Homo sapiens: one gene and its partners. The protein of the gene in region 3 purifies or fractionates together with the protein of the main gene of each other region. This does not show direct contact. Each region holds a gene or a part of one and is shown on either strand. Other genes may lie near its edges.

Region 1 (4,124 bases), on a different chromosome or scaffold from region 3:
GAGAAGCAGGGAGTGGTGCTCAGGCTTGTAATCCCAGCACTTTGGGAGGTTAAGGCAGGCAGATGGCTTGAGCCCAGAAGTTCGAGACCAGCCTGGGCAACATGGTGAAATCTCGTCTCTACAAAAAGAACACAAAAGATTTGCCGCTAGTGGTGGTGCACGCCCGCAGTCCCAACTGCTCAGGAGGCTGAGGTGGAAGAATCACTTGAACCGGGGAAGTCCAGGCTGCCATAAGCCGTGATCACACCACTGCACTCCAGCCTGGGTGACAGAGTGAGACCCTGTCTCAAAAAAAGTAAATAAATAAAATCAGGACCGAATTTAGGATGTCACCACCAAATCCCACTTTAAAGAGCTCGGTAATACTTCACACTTAAAAAAGGAAAGGTCAGGACAAATAAAAGAATGACCAGCCTTAACTCCGGGGCTGGTAATTTATGGAACTTATTACCTAACGGTGTTGCACAGGCTGAAAATACAACTTTTCTAAGAAAGATGTGAATAATTGCAGTATACCACTCCTACAATGGGTTAATAAGAAAAACAAGAACGTTTGTAGGCATGTGGGTCTCTATTATCCTCAAGGTTAACTTCAAGGAGGAAAACCGCACCCGCTGATACAGTGTTTCTAGGAGCTCGACGAGAAAAGGCAAACTGCGAGCCTTCTCGGGACGCCCTGTTCCCACCACAGCCCTTCACACAATGCGTCTAACAGCATTTAAGGAACACCCGCCACGCCAACGATCCTGCTGGAACCGCCCAGTTCAGGGAACAGGGGACGACTGACCAGAAGGCAACCGCCCCCAACCTGAGCAAAGAGCGCTGGAAACCTATTCCCCCCTCCCCCTACACCCCCCCGCCCCCCGCTCCACTACGGGACCCTCGGCTCGAATTCTTTTAGTGCAGGACCACCTTAGGACTCAGCCTCCCTAAGGAGAGGAAAAGTGGGGGAGGGAAGGGGACTCTGGAGGAGCAAAAGCAAGAGGCCTGGGGGCGACTGGGGTGGGGCGTCTCCTAGAGCGAGGATTGCTGCAGAGTGCGCGTGCACGCCCGCACATCCACACCCACGGCTACACATCATATCTGCACACGCACAAAACCACACACCCTCCCACGCCGGTCCCATATCCTTTCTGCGGGGTGAGCAGCAGATTCCCGGAAAGGGGGAAATGTAGCCGCAAAAGCAAAGCCGGGGGCCTGGCGCCCACTCTGGCGGCGACTACAGCCCCCACGCTGGGCACACTGCGAGCTGGGGGTGCCCGGCGCGGGAGAAGCCGCGCCCAGCCGGGCTGGTAGCCCAGCGGGGGGCGCGGCAGGGCGAGGAGCAGCCCGCGCTGCTCCCGCCCCTCGGGTGCCAGCACCGCCCCTGCTGCGGCGGGTGAGGGGCGGGGCGGGGCGCGGCGTATATAAGGCTAGGGGCGGGCGCCGCTCTTTTGTTTCTTGCTGCAGCAACGCGAGTGGGAGCACCAGGATCTCGGGCTCGGAACGAGACTGCACGGTGAGTGCGGCGCCGGGGCGGGGGGCCCACCCAGGGTGTGGTCGGATCCGGTGCACCGGGCGGGCGCGCCGCAACCGCGACAGGCGCCCTTCTCGGACCGGACGCAGGGGCCGGCGACCACGCCCTGGGACCGAGAAGAGGGGTGCGGGACGCGCCCAGATCCTCGGCCTTGGGGCTGCTCGGCACGCCTTGGCGCGAGTGCCACGTCGAGAGGCGTCGGCGGGGAGCGCGGAAGGGGACGCTGGCCCCCAGGCCCAGGTCAAGCGCCTTGGTTTGCCCACTAGGATTGTTTTAAGAAAATGGCAGACAAACCAGACATGGGGGAAATCGCCAGCTTCGATAAGGCCAAGCTGAAGAAAACGGAGACGCAGGAGAAGAACACCCTGCCGACCAAAGAGAGTGAGTGTGCCTCGGTCTCCCGCGCCCCAGCCCAGCCCCTCACCCTGCTCTTCCTTGCAAACCCACTCCTCCACCCCCCACCCCGCCGTTGTCCCCGGTGTGGGCGGCCCCGGCCACTCTTTCAGTTTCACAAAGCGCCTTGTTTCTCCCCAGCCCCAAGCTTCCTTCTAAATCCCCACACCTCGTGGGTGCCTCGCCCACACCGGGAAGCACCTCGGTTGCGGGTGGGGGTTGCAGCTCCCCTCCAGCGCCCGCTTCCCGCTCTCCACAGCCATTGAGCAGGAGAAGCGGAGTGAAATTTCCTAAGATCCTGGAGGATTTCCTACCCCCGTCCTCTTCGAGACCCCAGTCGTGATGTGGAGGAAGAGCCACCTGCAAGATGGACACGAGCCACAAGCTGCACTGTGAACCTGGGCACTCCGCGCCGATGCCACCGGCCTGTGGGTCTCTGAAGGGACCCCCCCCCAATCGGACTGCCAAATTCTCCGGTTTGCCCCGGGATATTATAGAAAATTATTTGTATGAATAATGAAAATAAAACACACCTCGTGGCATGGCTGGCGTGGTCTGAGTCTTTTAGTTGAGTATGCGTGGGCAGTGCCACTGCAGCAAAGCCCCTCGATGGAGTAGAGTTCCTGCCGCAAAGGGGAGGAGGTGGGTCGCAGAATGGGCTGACTCGGAGGGAGTTTTTAATTTTGGCTTTACCTGCTTCTCCGTAAGATTTCATGACTTGTTAGCCACTTAACTCTTGCTCGTAAGCAATCTGTGTAAAATTTAACCCCACTTTGTCCCCAGGTTGCGTTGGAAAATGCTTTTTCAAAAGAGCAAGGTTTGCTTTTGATAAGCTTCGAAAGCCCCACTGTTTCCCTCTGGCCTCCTCCTAGCTGACTCAGAAGGGAACACTGATTTTAAAGAAAGAAAAGACAATCTGGAATGTTGGAAATTGGGTGAGGTCACAAAGTCTCCGGAAGCCTTTCTTCGGGAGCTTAAAACAAAGGCGGGATCTAGGGATACAGCAACGGGAACGTCAGAACTAGAAGAACCAACACTAGAACTGGGGGAGGGGAGGGGGGAAGAGCTTTTGTCTTTTAACCCTAGTTCAGAACCTCCCACAAAAACATTAGCCATTAGAGGAAGTGCTAGACTGATCTGCTACCACCCAGTGCTCAGCAGGAAGGGTGGGGATGTGGTGGGAGGGAGGAAGGGTGGGCTGGCGCTGGCGCTGGCGGCCAAGCTCCAAGGGATGACACCTCAAACCCACAGGGAAGGAATAGGACCAGCCCAAGGGGGCCTGACAGTTGGGAACCTGGGGCTGCAGGCCATTCAGAAGCAGAAGAAACAGGCTTATAAAGACAGGGGTGGAGTTTTCTTTAAGGAAGGTGGATAGGACACTGCTTAGAGATTCGTCCCACATTTTTGCCCGGCCCCAAGAGGCTGGGCACTGGGTGAAGACAGTTAATTCGAATAAGATACGGTCCCTGTCCACGAGGAATTTAAAATCTGGTGAGTGAGATAGCCACAGCAGACCAGAGTCAGGACACCTAGGCTTGGCAGGGAGACTCATGCCCAAAGGCATTCTCTCTGAACTCCTATCTGCACCTCCCTCCTGGTACCTGGACACATACATCACCTCCCCCATTAGAGTAAATAGAGAGACTTTTTTTTTTTTTTTTTTTTTGAGACGGAGTTTCGCTCTTGTCTCCCAGACTGGACTGCAATGGTGCGATCTCGGCTCACTGCCTCCGCCTCCCGGGTACAAGCGATTTTCCTGCCTCAGCCTCCCCAGTAGCTGGGATTACAGGCATGAGCCACCACGCCTGGCTAACTTTTTGGTTGTTGTTTTTTTTTTTTTTTTTTTTTTTGAAATGGAGTTTCGCTCTTGTTGCCCAGGCTGGAGTGCAATGGTGCAATCTCAGCTCACCACAACTTCCACACCTCCGCCTCCCGAGTTCTCCTGCCTCAGCCTCCTGAGTAGCTGGGATTACAGGCATGCACCACCACGCCCGGCTAATTTTGTATTTTTAGTAGAGACGGGGTTTCGCCATGTTAGCCAGGCTGGTCTTGAACTCCTGACCTCTGGTGATCCACCCGTCTCAGCCTCTCAAAGTGCTGGGATTACAGGCGTGAGCCACCATGCCCGGCTGAAAGATTCTTATTAATTGATATTGGTGACTCTCACAGTAGTCAGCACTTAGTAGACACTCATAAGTGCTCACTGAATTGTAAC
Region 2 (4,913 bases), on a different chromosome or scaffold from region 3:
CACATTAACAAAGTGATATAAAAAGGCCACATGATCATCAAAATAGAGCATAAAAAGCATTTGACAAATTCAACATCCTTGTGTGATTAAAAAAAAAAAACTCTCAACAAATTAGGTACAGAAAGAATTTACCCCAACACAATAAAGGCCATCTATGAAAAGCCCACAGCTAACATCATACCAAGTCATGTAAGACTGAGAACTTTTGCTCTAAGATCAGGAAAAAGACAAAGGTGGCCACTTTCAACACCTCTGCTTAACATAGTACAAGAAGTCTTAATCAGAGCCATTAAACAAGAAAAAGAAAACAAAAGGCATTCAAATCAGAAAGGAAGAAGTAATATTATCTCTGTTTGCCGATGACATAATCATATATGTATAAAACCCTAAAAGTGCCACAAAAAAACCTGTTCAAACTAATAAATGAATTCAGTTAAGAGGCAGGATACAAAAATCAACATATAAAATATCAGTCAGGTTTCTGTACACAAACAGCAAACTATCCAAAAAAGGAATTAAAACAAAATCCCATCCCCAATAACAATAAAAGGAATAAAGTATTTAAGAATAAACTTAACCAAAAATGTTAAAGACTTGCACACTGAAAATCATATAGCAACTTATTCTTTCATGATTATTGTTTTGCCATCTTTGCTCAAGAACTAATGGTAGCTTTGCTTGACAATTATATGAGATGCAGGTTTTCACTGTCATCACTTAATTTAACCTACCTCGTCCCATATTAATACATAACTTAGACTCTCCATACCAACCTAGTCATTTGACTACAGTCTCCCATGCACCATCTCCCCATTCCTCCTGCATATTTGGGGTTACTCTTCATAACCTGTTTCATGTCATTCCTCAGCTCTAATCATCAATGCCTCATTTGAACCTTGATGGTCCCGCCTGAGTGGTCTCACTGGTGGAAGACGATTATACAAGGACATGAGTAATTATACTTATCAATAGCAAACAGAAGTTTTTTCAATATTAGCCTCCTCCAGAAACTTTCTGCAAGAGCTGATTTTATTTCTTTTGCCTTCATTCTTTTTATAGCCAATAAGGTCAGTTTAAACAATAGTAGTCTGCAAATCATTTAGCTAATATTAAAATATTTGACAAATTATTTTAGTGGCACCTAAAATACTTCTCTTATGACAAATGAAAATCCAGAGGATGTTAAGGGCCAAAAATAACTGTAGTCACTGTCAATAAACAGACATTCCCCTGTGCTCCCCCCGTCCCCACTTTCCTTGCCCTTCGGTCCAGGCAAGTTTCAAATTCAGAAAAGTCAGTCTGGAATTATTTCATTCTACATTTCAGGACATAAGTGCAAAGGACAAGAGAAATGTATTTCTTTTCACTCAGCAAAGAAAGTCAGTGGTAAATGTGAGTTCAGTTCTTGCTTCTGCCATTTTCTCCTCTGTTCAAAACCAATCAAGGCCTGGATACTTGACCTGCTGGTTGGCAGGGGTCCTCTGTTGAGTGACCTGGTACTTGTCTGAAGATGAATGCAGGCAGGTAGGAGTCAGGGGAAGAGCCCCTCTCTGTGTGTGTGTCCGTGTCTGTGTGTGCATGTGTGTGTGTGTGTATGAATATGAGAGTCCTAAAAATCTCTCTTTTAGATCCAATACTATGTGCTATAAAAGAAGTCATTGAGAACTAACAAAAGTATGTACAGCAATTTATAAAATCTGCCACAATCACCTTTCCCTTGGCAGTTGAAATAAATTAAATCTGTCCCACATCTTATATCTGTCTCTCTGCTTTAATCTCCACATTGATTTTTGACCAAAGAGCCTCAAGACGTGAAATAATCAAATTGCACCAGAGAAAACACAAATGATCTGTTTTGCTTTGCATCTAAGTTTTATATTCAATCTTTCACTTATAAAAATTGAAAAAAGGAATTAAACTGAAACATACAGTCAATGGCTGTCATCTTCTGTCAATGATAACTTTTTACTAATGGATACAAGGTCCAGTTGACATTCTTTCAATCTGTCAACTGAATGTCAAAAAGCCATTTGCAACTGTTCAAAACACATGGACACTAACACTACTGACCATTACATTTAGTCATCTTCATTTCATTGGCAGAGTTTGACGCTGTTTATAATTTACATACAAAGAAATAGTTTTGTGCAAGAAACTTAGTCATCTTTGGACAGATGAATGACATTTTTATTAATTAATAAGAGTTAAATAACCATATCTCCTAAAAATCTGTTACCTTCATTTTCTCTATAATTTAAGATGTTTACAATTACTTTTTCAGCATATAATGGGCAAAATCTTATACGTGTTTGAAAATGATTCTTTATGACACTTTTCTGAATAGAACATTTTTTTCTTGCCTTGGTCTCTAATCTGTTTTCACTGTTTCTTTTTCCTGACCAGTTTCAAAAAATACTTCCATAATGCAAGGGATTTTTAGGTAAGAAGTTCTTTTTGTCTGTGTCTGAAGGAACAGAGTCAACATTTAAAATGAGGAGTCTCTGCTAATTTTTCCTCCCCCAAATATTTCACCAACCACTCATCATTTTCATTAAATTCTAAGTCCAATGTATGTCTCACCACAGTTCCTAGAGGAACAAGGGAGGCTTGATGTGGTCCAAGGTGATTGTGTATGAAAAGATGTTATTCCCTGAAAATGCTCTCCTTATTATACACAGAGCTATAGTGGAAGCTTCTGTTTATACAAGACCTTTTCTTCTTCATTTTCAACACAGGAAGAAATATCAGTTTGCAATATGAGCAAAGTCTATAAAGGGACAGCCAAAGCCTAGCAAGCGTTGGCTCTACAAGTCTAACATAAGTCAAAGGTAAATTAGCTGGCTGAAAGCATGTGGAAGGGAGAAGGGAAGGAAGAAAAGAAAAGGGAATGGAACAGAGTGAAAGAAGGAAGGAAGGGAAGGAAAGATGGAAGAGAGTGAGGGAGAAAGGGAGGGAGGGAACTGTAATACAGGCCTCTACACAGAACTCTATATGGACCTCTATATTTGTACTTCTGTAAATAAAAAAAAAATCACTTTTTCTCACAATCATACAAAGTGGATCTAGGTTTTGTGGGGGCTGGAATCTTACACAATTTAAGGATTCATTGTGACAAAAGAGACAAATGCCTAATACACAAATAGTGCAGTGCTTTGGAAGGGGCCTGCTCAAGTGGGAGGAAGGAAGGAAGGAAGGAAGGAAGGAAGGAAGGAAGGAAGGAAGGGAGGGAGGGAGGGAGGGAAGGGAGGGGAGGGGAGGGGAGGGAAGGGAAGGGAGGGGAGAGAAGGGAAGGGAGGGGAGGGGAGAGAAAGGAGGGGAGGGGAGGGGAGAGACAGGAGGGGAGGGGAGGGGAGGGGGGGGAGGGAAGGGGAGGGAGATGGGGAGGGGGAGGGCAGGGGAGGGGGAAGGTAGGGGAGGGAAGGAAGGGGAGGGGAGGAGGGGAGGGGAGGGAGGAAGGAAAGGAAGAAGGGAGAACAAAGTGAAAGGTAAAAATAAATTATTTTCTCTTCCGTGTCCCGACAGTGAGGAAGCTGGCCCAGAGGCAGAGCTGGGAGAGCCTGGGATGGCCTTCCTCTCTCTCAACTGTAATGCAGGCCTCTACACAGACCTCTATATGGGCCTCTCTATATTAGCACTTCTGTAAGTGAAAGAAATTACTTTTTCTCATACTCATGCAAAGTGGATCTAGGTTTTGCAGGTCCTGAAACACAATGAAAGGCTTCATTGTGACAAAAAAAAGACAAATGCCTAATATACAAATAGTGTGGTGCCTTGGAGGAGGCCTTGGAGGAGGTGGAAGCCCCAAAGGCCAATTTCACCAGCACAAAGATTATACTCAGTAATGGTCACCAAAGATCTAAGTCAGTGGTTCTTATAGTATGTTTGGGGGTCCCTGAGGATCCCTGTGTCCCTTTTGGGGATCTGCAAGGTCAAACCTATTTTCCTAGTAATATTAAGATGCAACATCAGTCTGTTTCTGCATCCACATCTGAAAAAGACTGAGAGAAAAAAAGGCTCCTGTCTGGCAAACTGGCAACCGCATTCTCAAACACCTGCTGAAATGCACTCAACGCAGCCCTGCTTCAGCCATATCAACCTAGCACTGTCTTGTATTGCTGGGGTATGTGGGGATTCTAACACCTTATCACCACCATCAAAAATATTCATGTAATTGGGAAGATAGGAGTTCTACAGCTGAAACCTGAAGGCTGGTAATACCATATGTTTTTCAGCCCTTTACGAATTTCTTTTTTAAGCTTCAGGATGGTGGCAGATAAGAAAATTGGAAAGATTTTTATTGCTGTATCTGATTGATGGATTCACAAGATAAAGAAACCCTCAATACTAGAATAATGGCCAACTCACCTAAATTCAGCCATTTAAAAAAATGCTGAATATGCGCATTAAATGAACATGTTTACCATAAATAAAAACAGAGACCAGCCCACGGGGCTGGCTTTTTCCATGTTTGATACCAGAAGATGTCTGGTGCTCACTCACCCTCGGCTACAGTCAATCTCATCACGAAGGTTTCGTTTTCTCCTGCGCTGGCCTGCAAGTAGCAGCGGTAAAGCCCCGAGTCTGAGACTGTGACATCGGGGATGACGATGACGCTCCACCTTCCGTGGCTGCAGTTGCTCACTATTTGTCTTGGGAACTTGGAGGTGAAATTTCTGCCATGGACCAAGTTGCAGTAAGTTAAGAGGTCGATCTGACGGGGCTGGATCTTTTCCCACCTCACTGCCTGCACAGGCCACGTCATCTGAGGCTGACAAGTGAGTGTGACATTCTTTCCAGGTTCCGAAACAATGTGGCTATTTGATGGCACAGCTGCCTCAAAACTATCTGAAAAGAAGAAGCAAATGATTAGATACAGGTTGTCAAATTTTGGGACACCCAACTGGAAGATACTT
Region 3 (4,909 bases):
CTGAGGAGCTGAGGGTGGCTGTGACTTGGAGGATGAGTAGGAGCTCACCAGGAGGGCGTGGAGCCGAGGCGTTTAATATCATCAGGAGCAACACTGGGCTCAGAAGGCAGGCACACTTGCCGTCCCTCCAGAGCCATGGCTGACGGCCAGGCCTGGTGGGCTCTCGTGAGGACAGTGCCTGTGGTTGTCAGATGCTGTCCCTTCGAGTAAGGGATGAGAGCCATCCTGAAGATGGGTCAGCTCTGTGGTGACCACCCGTTGGGAGCAGTGACATTCAGGTGCGTTGCACTGGTGGCTGTGTGGCTGTGTGGTACGGCCACCAGGAGCCATGTGGGCAAGGACAGCTGTGGGCTGGGCACAGAGCTCTCTCTGCTGGGAGTCAGTCGGTGCTGGGGCGAGGGGAGGCAGAGCTCACAGAGCCCCTCTACAGCTCACCCTGCAGCTCGGCCCTGGCCAGTAAACCCACCATCCCCCTTTCTGCCGCAGGAGGCAGTGGAGAAGGTGACACAGCACATCCACGGCCTGTCTGGGAAGAAGGATGGGCTGGTGCCCATGTTCATCAATACCCACAGTGGCCTCTTCACCCACCTGGGCGTATTCACGCTGGGCGCCAGGGCCGACAGCTACTATGAGTACCTGCTGAAGCAGTGGATCCAGGGCGGGAAGCAGGAGACACAGTGAGGCCCGGCCCGCTGCCCCCAGCTCCCGCGGCTCCCCCGTTCCCGCAGCCCCCCACTCCTGCTGCCCCCAGCTCCCACGGCCCCCGCTCCTGCTGCCCCCCGCCACACTGTGTGTCAGGAAACCGCAGCCGTGCCAGGCCTGGCCCAGGCATTTATGTGGAGGGCGTATTCATTCACCTCTCACCGTGGCCTCTGGGGGGGTGAGGGGGGCATCTTCACTGAGGGCCATGGGCTGTGCAGGGTGGCACCTTCTGTCCGGCAAGGGCCAGGCCTGCTGTACTTGTGTGGGCCCAGGATGTGCCTGTCCCTGGTGCCCCACGGGAGCCGATGCACCGTCCTGGTAGAGTGAGATGACTGCTGGTGTCCACAGGCTGCTGGAAGACTACGTGGAAGCCATCGAGGGTGTCAGAACGCACCTGCTGCGGCACTCCGAGCCCAGTAAGCTCACCTTTGTGGGGGAGCTTGCCCACGGCCGCTTCAGTGCCAAGATGGTGAGTGTGTCTGCGGGGCCTTCCGGCCGCCGCCCCTTTTACCTTGGCTTCCAAGGTGCCTGAGTCATGATGTCAAAAAGAACGAAATCCTGGCCATGGCGCCCACGTGGAGGCCCTGGGTGGACCGTGGCTGCCTGGCCAGGCCTGTCTTGGCAACAGGGCAGTAAGGCCTTGTGTGGCACCTGGGGTGGGCAGGGCTTCCCCAGGGCAGCTCCCTCCCCGTGCCCGGTGTGTAGCAGGTCCTCGGGCGGTGTGTGGGGGCCGGGTTGGAGGGCCTGGTCCAGGCAGCTCCGCTGTTCCATGCCAAGTGCCCTCGCGTGGCCTCCCCTCCCAGGGTACCAGGGCCGAGGCAGCGCTGGGCTCCCACGTTGGCTGCCCGTGCAGCTGCAGGCTGAGGGCAGGGCCTGGGATCTGGGGCTGAAGAGACCCTCTGATTCCAGGACCACCTGGTGTGCTTCCTGCCAGGGACGCTGGCTCTGGGCGTCTACCACGGCCTGCCCGCCAGCCACATGGAGCTGGCCCAGGAGCTCATGGAGACTTGTTACCAGATGAACCGGCAGATGGAGACGGGGCTGAGTCCCGAGATCGTGCACTTCAACCTTTACCCCCAGCCGGGCCGTCGGGACGTGGAGGTCAAGGTGGGCCTGGGCCTGGGTCAGGGTCCATCAGGAGGAGGGTGCTGGCAGGGCTGGCCTTGCCCTGAGCTCTGCTCCGCCCACAGCCAGCAGACAGGCACAACCTGCTGCGGCCAGAGACCGTGGAGAGCCTGTTCTACCTGTACCGCGTCACAGGGGACCGCAAATACCAGGACTGGGGCTGGGAGATTCTGCAGAGCTTCAGCCGATTCACACGGGTGAGCACCTGTCCTCGCCCCGCGTGGTCACGGCCACCGGGCCACAGGCACGGCTGGGCTGTGGGGCTCAGGCTGGCTCCGCTCTTGGTGGTGGCTGTGACCTGGATCCGGGAGGGGCGGGCTTGCCGCAGCCTCGGGGTGGCCACACTGCAGCTTGGGGGCCCTGGCATCCCCATCCCCACTGAGCTTCATGGTTGTGGGACCCAGAGTACTTGGAGGGGCTGGGCACCCCTCATTTTCATTTCTCAGGGCCTGTCTAGGGAGGGTCTCTGCTGTGGGCCCAGCATCCCCCCAGTTTAGGAGGCACACGCACCCATGACTGGGGCACCATCCCCACTGTGGACCAGGCCCTGTTTTAGGTCACGCCCTCCACGCCAGAGTGTCACTTCCTGGCTCTGCTGTGATCTTGGCCTGAGGCCCCCGCTGCCTCCGCTCCCACCGTCTGCCCTGTGCCCTGTGCCCTGTGCGGCAACTGTGAGGCCCCCTGAGCCCAGGTTCTGGGGGAGGCGGTTTCTGTCGTGGTCACTTGAGGGTTGTTGGCATTTCCAGGTGGGCTCCGGTGGAACCACACGGCTCGCCTGGGGGTGGCCATCATCCAGGCGCCCTCCACCCTGAGCTTGCGCTGGGGGCCACATTCACCATGGGGTGGAGAGCGCTTCGGTGATGAGGCTGAGGGGGGTGCAGGGTGCCCCCCGTGTGGTGACGAGGCCCTGGCTGCTGCACAGGTCCCCTCGGGTGGCTATTCTTCCATCAACAATGTCCAGGATCCTCAGAAGCCCGAGCCTAGGGACAAGATGGAGAGCTTCTTCCTGGGGGAGACGCTCAAGTATCTGTTCTTGCTCTTCTCCGATGACCCAAACCTGCTCAGCCTGGATGCCTACGTGTTCAACACCGAAGCCCACCCTCTGCCTATCTGGACCCCTGCCTAGGGTGGATGGCTGCTGGTGTGGGGACTTCGGGTGGGCAGAGGCACCTTGCTGGGTCTGTGGCATTTTCCAAGGGCCCACGTAGCACCGGCAACCGCCAAGTGGCCCAGGCTCTGAACTGGCTCTGGGCTCCTCCTCGTCTCTGCTTTAATCAGGACACCGTGAGGACAAGTGAGGCCGTCAGTCTTGGTGTGATGCGGGGTGGGCTGGGCCGCTGGAGCCTCCGCCTGCTTCCTCCAGAAGACACGAATCATGACTCACGATTGCTGAAGCCTGAGCAGGTCTCTGTGGGCCGACCAGAGGGGGGCTTCGAGGTGGTCCCTGGTACTGGGGTGACCGAGTGGACAGCCCAGGGTGCAGCTCTGCCCGGGCTCGTGAAGCCTCAGATGTCCCCAATCCAAGGGTCTGGAGGGGCTGCCGTGACTCCAGAGGCCTGAGGCTCCAGGGCTGGCTCTGGTGTTTACAAGCTGGACTCAGGGATCCTCCTGGCCGCCCCGCAGGGGGCTTGGAGGGCTGGACGGCAAGTCCGTCTAGCTCACGGGCCCCTCCAGTGGAATGGGTCTTTTCGGTGGAGATAAAAGTTGATTTGCTCTAACCGCGATGTCGCCTGTGTCTTTAGGGATCTCCATGACTGGAAAGTCTGGGCGGACGTTGGGGAGAAGGTATTCTTCAAGTCACGTCTCAGAATTCGGTTTGCTGAGACTGGACTCTAGCTGTCCCCTGCTGGTGGGCAGGGAGAGGCCACGGGGAAGCTCCGTGTCCCTGGCCCCACGGGGCAGATGCTTGGCGGGAGGCATCCTTGCGCCTGCGTTTCACACAGGGCCTGTTTCCCTGCAGGGCTGGCACTGAGGCGCACAGCTGAGGGATACACGGGCCCTCAGGTCAGGCAGCTCCCAGCAGCCTGGCATGGCTATGGCCCCGAGCCCTGGGCTGTGGTGGCAGAGTTGTCCTCATCATCACTCTACTGCTGTCCCTATCCCAGGGCTGACCCTGGGCCTTGGCTGGGTTCCCCCCGACCCTGAACCAGGTGACCTCTTAGGACCACGCCCCCTCGCTCTCCCCTGTGAAAAATCCATCACCTTCACTTCCGGAAGACTCCCCTTCCCTGGGAAGCCAGAGCCGGTGGCGGCACAGGGCAGGGCTACCCGGACCCAGCCCAGGATTGCCAGCTCCGCCCCTCGGGACGTCCGGGCCCCGAGTGTGGGCCTCGGCTCTGCCTGTCCCCACAACCCCCAACATCCCACAGCAGCCACCTGTGTCCCTCTGGGGACAGTGGGCACCCTGGGGCTTCGTCTCCCACTTCATGCTGGGCCCTGATCCTGCACTCCACCCTCTGTGCCTGGAAAGGTGAGAACATCGGCTGTCATGTGACCCTGGCGCCTGCCCCTTGTCACGGTGGGCCCAGCACGGCCCTAGCCTGCCCCTTGTCAGTACCACCCTAGCCCGCCCCTTGTCACGGTGGGCCCAGTGCTGCCCTCCTGGACCAGGTGCCCCATGGCCGGCTGAACGGGCAGGACTAGGGCAGCAGGTGGGGCCTCAACAGCCGGAAAAGGTGCACCTTCTCCATCTCACCCAGACCTCCGAGACTAACGTGCTGGGGGCGTGGTCCCAGAGGGTGGAGGGACAGCAACTGCATGCCCCTTGGGGGCCAAAAGCACTGTCCAGTGGCCTCCCCTGGAGGGGTCGCTGTGTACAGAGGATGTCAGGGAAGGAGTCACCTTGGAGGTGTGGCTGCAGCCTCTGTCTGCTGCGGCTCAGCAGAGCGGGGCTTCCTTGCGGGGCACTGCCCCCCGCTGCCCTAAGGAGCAGACCTGAGCGTTGTGGAGCCTCTACCTTGTGGAGCACATGGCATACCCGGCCTGTGTGGGGTGCGCCGCGTCCCCAGCCGTGTCTCCGAGGGTCCCGCTCCCACAGCCTGCGTGTGGGCCCCACAGACAGGAAGGACGGGACATACATGGC
Region 4 (4,913 bases), on a different chromosome or scaffold from region 3:
CAGCCCGTGGGCGCCTGGCGGCAGCCTCAGAACAAGAAGAGGAGCTGCTGGAGAGCCTGGATGTGTACGAGCTGTTCCTCCACTTCTCCAGTCTGCATGTGCTGCGGGCGGTGGAGCCGGCGCTGCTGCAGCGCTACCGGGCCCAGACGTGCAGCGCGAGGCTCAGTGAGGACCTGTACCACCGCTGCCTCCAGAGCGTGCTTGAGGGCCTCGGCTCCCGAACCCAGCTGGCCATGCTACTCTTTGAACAGGAGCAGGGCAACAGCACCTGACCCCACCCTGTCCCCGTGGGCCGTGGCATGGCCACACCCCACCCCACTTCTCCCCCAAAACCAGAGCCACCTGCCAGCCTCGCTGGGCAGGGCTGGCCGTAGCCAGACCCCAAGCTGGCCCACTGGTCCCCTCTCTGGCTCTGTGGGTCCCTGGGCTCTGGACAAGCACTGGGGGACGTGCCCCCAGAGCCACCCACTTCTCATCCCAAACCCAGTTTCCCTGCCCCCTGACGCTGCTGATTCGGGCTGTGGCCTCCACGTATTTATGCAGTACAGTCTGCCTGACGCCAGCCCTGCCTCTGGGCCCTGGGGGCTGGGCTGTAGAAGAGTTGTTGGGGAAGGAGGGAGCTGAGGAGGGGGCATCTCCCAACTTCTCCCTTTTGGACCCTGCCGAAGCTCCCTGCCTTTAATAAACTGGCCAAGTGTGGACTTGTGATTCAGAGGTTTTGAAAAGGTAGGCAGGCGTGGGGGAGGGAGGACTGGCTGAGCACCACAGGCTCCCCTGCCCCTGCTGGGGCCTGCCTTTCCTTTCACCCGGGACCAAGTCATGCATGTGCCCAGCCTCACCCCGGCCCCCAGTGCGTGCTTGGTCACACATACACACAGAGAATTCTTTATGCCTCTTTATTCCCAATCTCGTCAGCACTTTATAAAATCAGACTGGAGGGAGAGAGGACTGAGAAGGCTCCCTTCCCACCCTCCAAGCTCAGCCGAAGTCTGGAAGGTCTCCTGCCCCCTCCCTATAGAAGGGACTCTAGGGGTGGGGCTGGTGCAGGGGGAACTGGGAGCTGGGCCAGGCCTGCTGGGCCATCCTCTCCCCCTGCCAAGAGGGGAGCTGGGCCTGGAGAGGGGCAGGAAGTAGGACCAGCCCAGCACTCCTGAGTCCTGGGGCTCTCCCTATCCTGCTGACATTGGGGCTGGGACCCTGGCTGTCCCTAAATCACCCACCCCTGTAGCCCTACCCACCTTCTACATCTGTATCCCCTCCCCCCACCCGGCTTTCCCTAAATATTTACAAATGTACAGAGGGCTCCCCCTCCCCGGCTGGGATGGGCTCTATCCTCCCCCTCCCTCTCCTTCCTTCCCTTCCTCTCCGTGAGGGCCCATGGCCTGGTCTCCAGCCCTCCCGGGGCACCAGCCTGGGGATAAGGGGTGTGGACAAGAAGGACCTTTGTGCAAAGCAGCTGACATCAGGGCAGGGGAGGATGAGAGCAGGAACTGAGTCCTGGCCCTCCCAGTGAGCACCGCCCCCAGGCCTCTCCCAGGAGCAGGAGAATGTGCTGGGGATCCCAGGAGGGGTCCCAGACTCCTGGGTCCTTTCAGTCACAGCACCGTCCTAGCAAGCAAAATCTTCAAAGAGACCTCCTGGGGGACCGTGGGGGTGGTGGTGATTGGGGAGCAGACTGCTGACCCCCCCACCCTCCACTCGGCCCCGGCTCGGGCAGGGACTCTGCAGGAGAAAGAAAAGAGAGAGTGGGACCGGGAGAGCTCAAGTGGTGCCCCCAGGGCTCACACCGCCAGCCTTTCCTTGTCACCTCGGGCAGAGGCTCCAGGGCCCCCTCCACAGGCTGGTTCAGAAACAATGGATGTATTCAGTCCTGGGGAGGTGTGGCTGCATGCTGCAGGCATTTAGAGCTTGTCCTCACCTGTTCCTTCAGCTCCTGAAGCCCCAAAGTGGAGATGCCCCCAGTGGAGGTCCGCAGGGGGGTCTTGGGACGCCTCCATACCCGCTTCAGTCGATCCCAGGACACCTTGGGGTTCAGGGTCGGGGACAGCAGTGGGCTCAGGAAATTTGGTTGAGGAGAAGCGTGAGCCTTACCATGCCCAGCTGCCCACAGGACTTACTGCCACAGCAAACTCCCAGTAGGACACCCTCCTCCTCCTCACCCATCCCCTTCTCCTGACTCTGAGCCCTCAGGCCTGCCAGCCAGTCAGGGGACCCTGGCAGAGAACCCTGAACCTGACTTTCCAGCCAGGCCAGCTCCACCAGGCACCCCGCACTGCCCCCTTCTGCTTTGCCCACGGCCCCCACTCCCACCCTGCCTTCTCCAGGGCCCTTGCCTCATAGATGTAGTCGAGGATCTCCAGCAACGTGAGGATGCTGGCCCCAATGAACAGGCCCATCTGTCCCCCGAGGTCTCCTGGGAAGCAGGAGAGCAGTGTCAGAGGGAGCGGCCGGGCCGATCCACCCCCACACAAGCTGGGGGCAGGGACACCAGTCTCACCCAGCAGGGCTGACAGGCCATAGGCTGCTCGCTGCTCCATGGCTTCAGAGGTCAGGGCCTCAAAGAAGACATCTAGGACCAGGAAGTTCTCCCTGTGGAGACAGGAAGCAGGGTATCCGTGTGGGCCTCTCTTCCTGAGAAGGCTGGCAGGGGCATCCTGGATCCAGCAGATCCTGATCAGAGATCACTACATGGGGAAGTCAGTGACTACCCCCCGGACTCCCCAAGGCTGTGAGGGGAGGCAGTCCCGGATGTGTGTTAGCTTCATCTTTTGAGGGGTAGCAAAGGGCCTGGGAGAGCAAAACACAACTCCTGGACCTGAAGGAAACACTCCTCCCTCCTCTAAAGCAGCCAGTGGTGTTGCCTTTGCCTCCTCCTTACGCCTCTGCGGACCCTTCAGTGACCCCTGTTGCCCGTCAGTCCACTCCACAATGCCCCTTCTCGGTGTCCTGGGCAGCCGGTGGCCTGTCCCCGGCACCTTCCTCCCCAGCCGCCGTCTTTTCTGCTTCCTCCACACAGCTGCCTATGGCTCAGGCTCCCCGCCACACCACCCCACCGCCCCACGTCCTGTCACTGGACGCCTCCCCATTGCCTCCTCTCTCAGACCCCAAACCCAGGGCCCTCAGAGGCCGGCTCACGCCTCCCCAGCTTCACTCCCCGACTGGGGCCTGAGAATCAGTCCTACATGATCAAACGTGGGCTCATTGACAAATTGTGGCATGAGTTTTGTGTCATAATCATCTGTCCCCACAGAACCCAGCACTGAGCCTGGCACCCAGACCACGCTCCACAAGTGTAGACTGGCTGGAGGGGACCAGACCCAAGCCTCAGGGCGGTCCCTCCTGCCTCCCCCTGCAGGGTACTGTGTTCCTCTCCTGTCTCATCCTGTCCCTCTCCCTCCGTGCAGGGAAGAAAGATGCATAAGCAAAGCACTCTGAAATGTGGCATATGTGTAATGACAGAGATCTGTACGGGTGCTGGGAACTCAGATGAAAGGTGTTTGGACCTGGAAGCACTTCCCTGGAGGTGGAGACACTGAACGTGACTTGAGCAATGAGTGGGGCTACTTAGAAGAGAAGGGCTGTGGCCAGGCAAGGTGGCTCACACCTGTAATCCCAGCACTTTGGGAGACCAAGGACGGCAGATCACTTGAGGTCAGGAGTTTAAGACCAGCCTGGCCAACATGGTGAAACCCCATCTCTACTAAAAAGACAAAAATTAGCTGGGTATGGCTGTGGGTGCCTATAATCCCAGCTATTTGGGAGGCTGAGGGAGAAGAATCGCTTGAACCTGGGAGGTCGAGGTTGCAGTGAGCCAAGATTGTGCCACTGCACTCCAGCCTGGGCGACAGAGCAAGACTCTGTCTCAAAAAAAAAAAAAAAAAAGAAGGAGAAGAATAGAGCTATGAAGGGCATTCCCGGTAGAAGACTCATCATAGAGATGCGGCCCACTCCCTGCCTCCACCATGCCCAGCGCCTGTTGAGGGCAGCCTCCACCACACACACACACGCACACAGACCCACACAGACATAGACACATTCTCTCACACACATACCCATTCACAGATACATACACTCATAAGTGTGCATGCACACACACATCACACACTCACACACCCACAAGACACACATACATGCCCCCCACACAGACACACACACACATGCATGTACACACCCACATACACCCCACACACATACACACCCACACCCACATACACACAAACACATACACACATACACTCACACACACGTACACACAGAGTCACACAGCCACCCCCCACACACACGTACACACAGAGTCACACAGCCACCCCCCACACACACACACACATACCGTATGTAGGTCTCGTTGCGGTTGTACTTCCTCGCCAGGTACCGGGCTGAGCCCCTGTTGGGGATCCTGACCATGGAGATCTCTTTCCCATAGCGTGTCAGGTTGCAGGGGGTGGGGCAGAAGCACGGGCCCTCAGGGCCCCCACCCAGGGAGTCTGCAACACAGAGGTAGCAGCTACAGTGGGAGTTGGAGAAGGGTGGTCCAGTGGCCCACCAGCTGCAGAGAGGAGGCCCAGGGGCCGTCCTGAGGCAGGCACACCCACACTGAGGGCCTTTACTGGCCAGCCCCAGTGCTTCCTAGAGGGGACTGGCTGCAGGTCCCCGCCTGAACCAGCTTCAGACTGCTCCAGAGAGCAGATATAAGCAGAACCCCCCAGCACCCTCCCAACCCCCTGGGACTGGGGGGGGGTCCTCGTGGCCCAGAGGGAGAACACAGCCCATCCACCAGAGCTAATCAACTATGTGAGGCCTCAGACACACAAGGAGGTGTGGAGAGGATGCTGGGATGCATGCATGGATGGATGGATGGATGGATGGATGGATGGATGGATGGATGGATGGCAGATGGCCAGATCGACGGATGG

The links. Proteins that work in one complex are often made in the same cells at the same time.
Region 1: the proteins of MAN1B1 (region 3) and TMSB10 purify together in Homo sapiens (co-immunoprecipitation; one large-scale study listed by IntAct). This does not show direct contact.
Region 2: the proteins of MAN1B1 (region 3) and CD226 purify together in Homo sapiens (co-immunoprecipitation; one large-scale study listed by IntAct). This does not show direct contact.
Region 4: the proteins of MAN1B1 (region 3) and ASIC4 purify together in Homo sapiens (co-immunoprecipitation; one large-scale study listed by IntAct). This does not show direct contact.

Annotation. Positions count from the first base shown.
Region 1 is NC_000002.12:84,904,221-84,908,344, forward strand, and holds TMSB10 (thymosin beta-10), read left to right. Parts: upstream 1-1,435; 5' UTR 1,436-1,498; intron 1,499-1,782; 5' UTR 1,783-1,797; coding exon 1,798-1,897; intron 1,898-2,168; coding exon 2,169-2,203; 3' UTR 2,204-2,451; downstream 2,452-4,124. UniProt on the Homo sapiens protein: Plays an important role in the organization of the cytoskeleton. Binds to and sequesters actin monomers (G actin) and therefore inhibits actin polymerization.
Region 2 is NC_000018.10:69,891,201-69,896,113, forward strand, and holds part of CD226 (CD226 antigen isoform a precursor), read right to left. Parts: intron 4,846-4,913; coding exon 4,501-4,845; intron 1-4,500.
Region 3 is NC_000009.12:137,105,639-137,110,547, forward strand, and holds the end of MAN1B1 (endoplasmic reticulum mannosyl-oligosaccharide 1,2-alpha-mannosidase), read left to right. Parts: intron 1-486; coding exon 487-677; intron 678-1,050; coding exon 1,051-1,171; intron 1,172-1,611; coding exon 1,612-1,809; intron 1,810-1,892; coding exon 1,893-2,024; coding exon of another isoform or gene 2,025-2,324; exon of another isoform or gene 2,325-2,740; intron 2,741-2,749; coding exon 2,750-2,953; 3' UTR 2,954-3,545; downstream 3,546-4,909. UniProt on the Homo sapiens protein: Involved in glycoprotein quality control targeting of misfolded glycoproteins for degradation.
Region 4 is NC_000002.12:219,534,742-219,539,654, reverse strand, and holds the end of ASIC4 (acid-sensing ion channel 4), read right to left. Parts: exon of another isoform or gene 4,485-4,913; coding exon 4,331-4,484; intron 2,590-4,330; coding exon 2,498-2,589; intron 2,414-2,497; coding exon 2,334-2,413; intron 2,024-2,333; coding exon 1,919-2,023; intron 1,723-1,918; coding exon 1,609-1,722; 3' UTR 883-1,608; downstream 1-882. Other genes in the region: CHPF (chondroitin sulfate synthase 2), read left to right, coding at 1-272. UniProt on the Homo sapiens protein: Does not exhibit measurable stand-alone pH-gated sodium channel activity but may form pH-gated heterotrimeric sodium channels. Its activity could also depend on alternative gating mechanisms.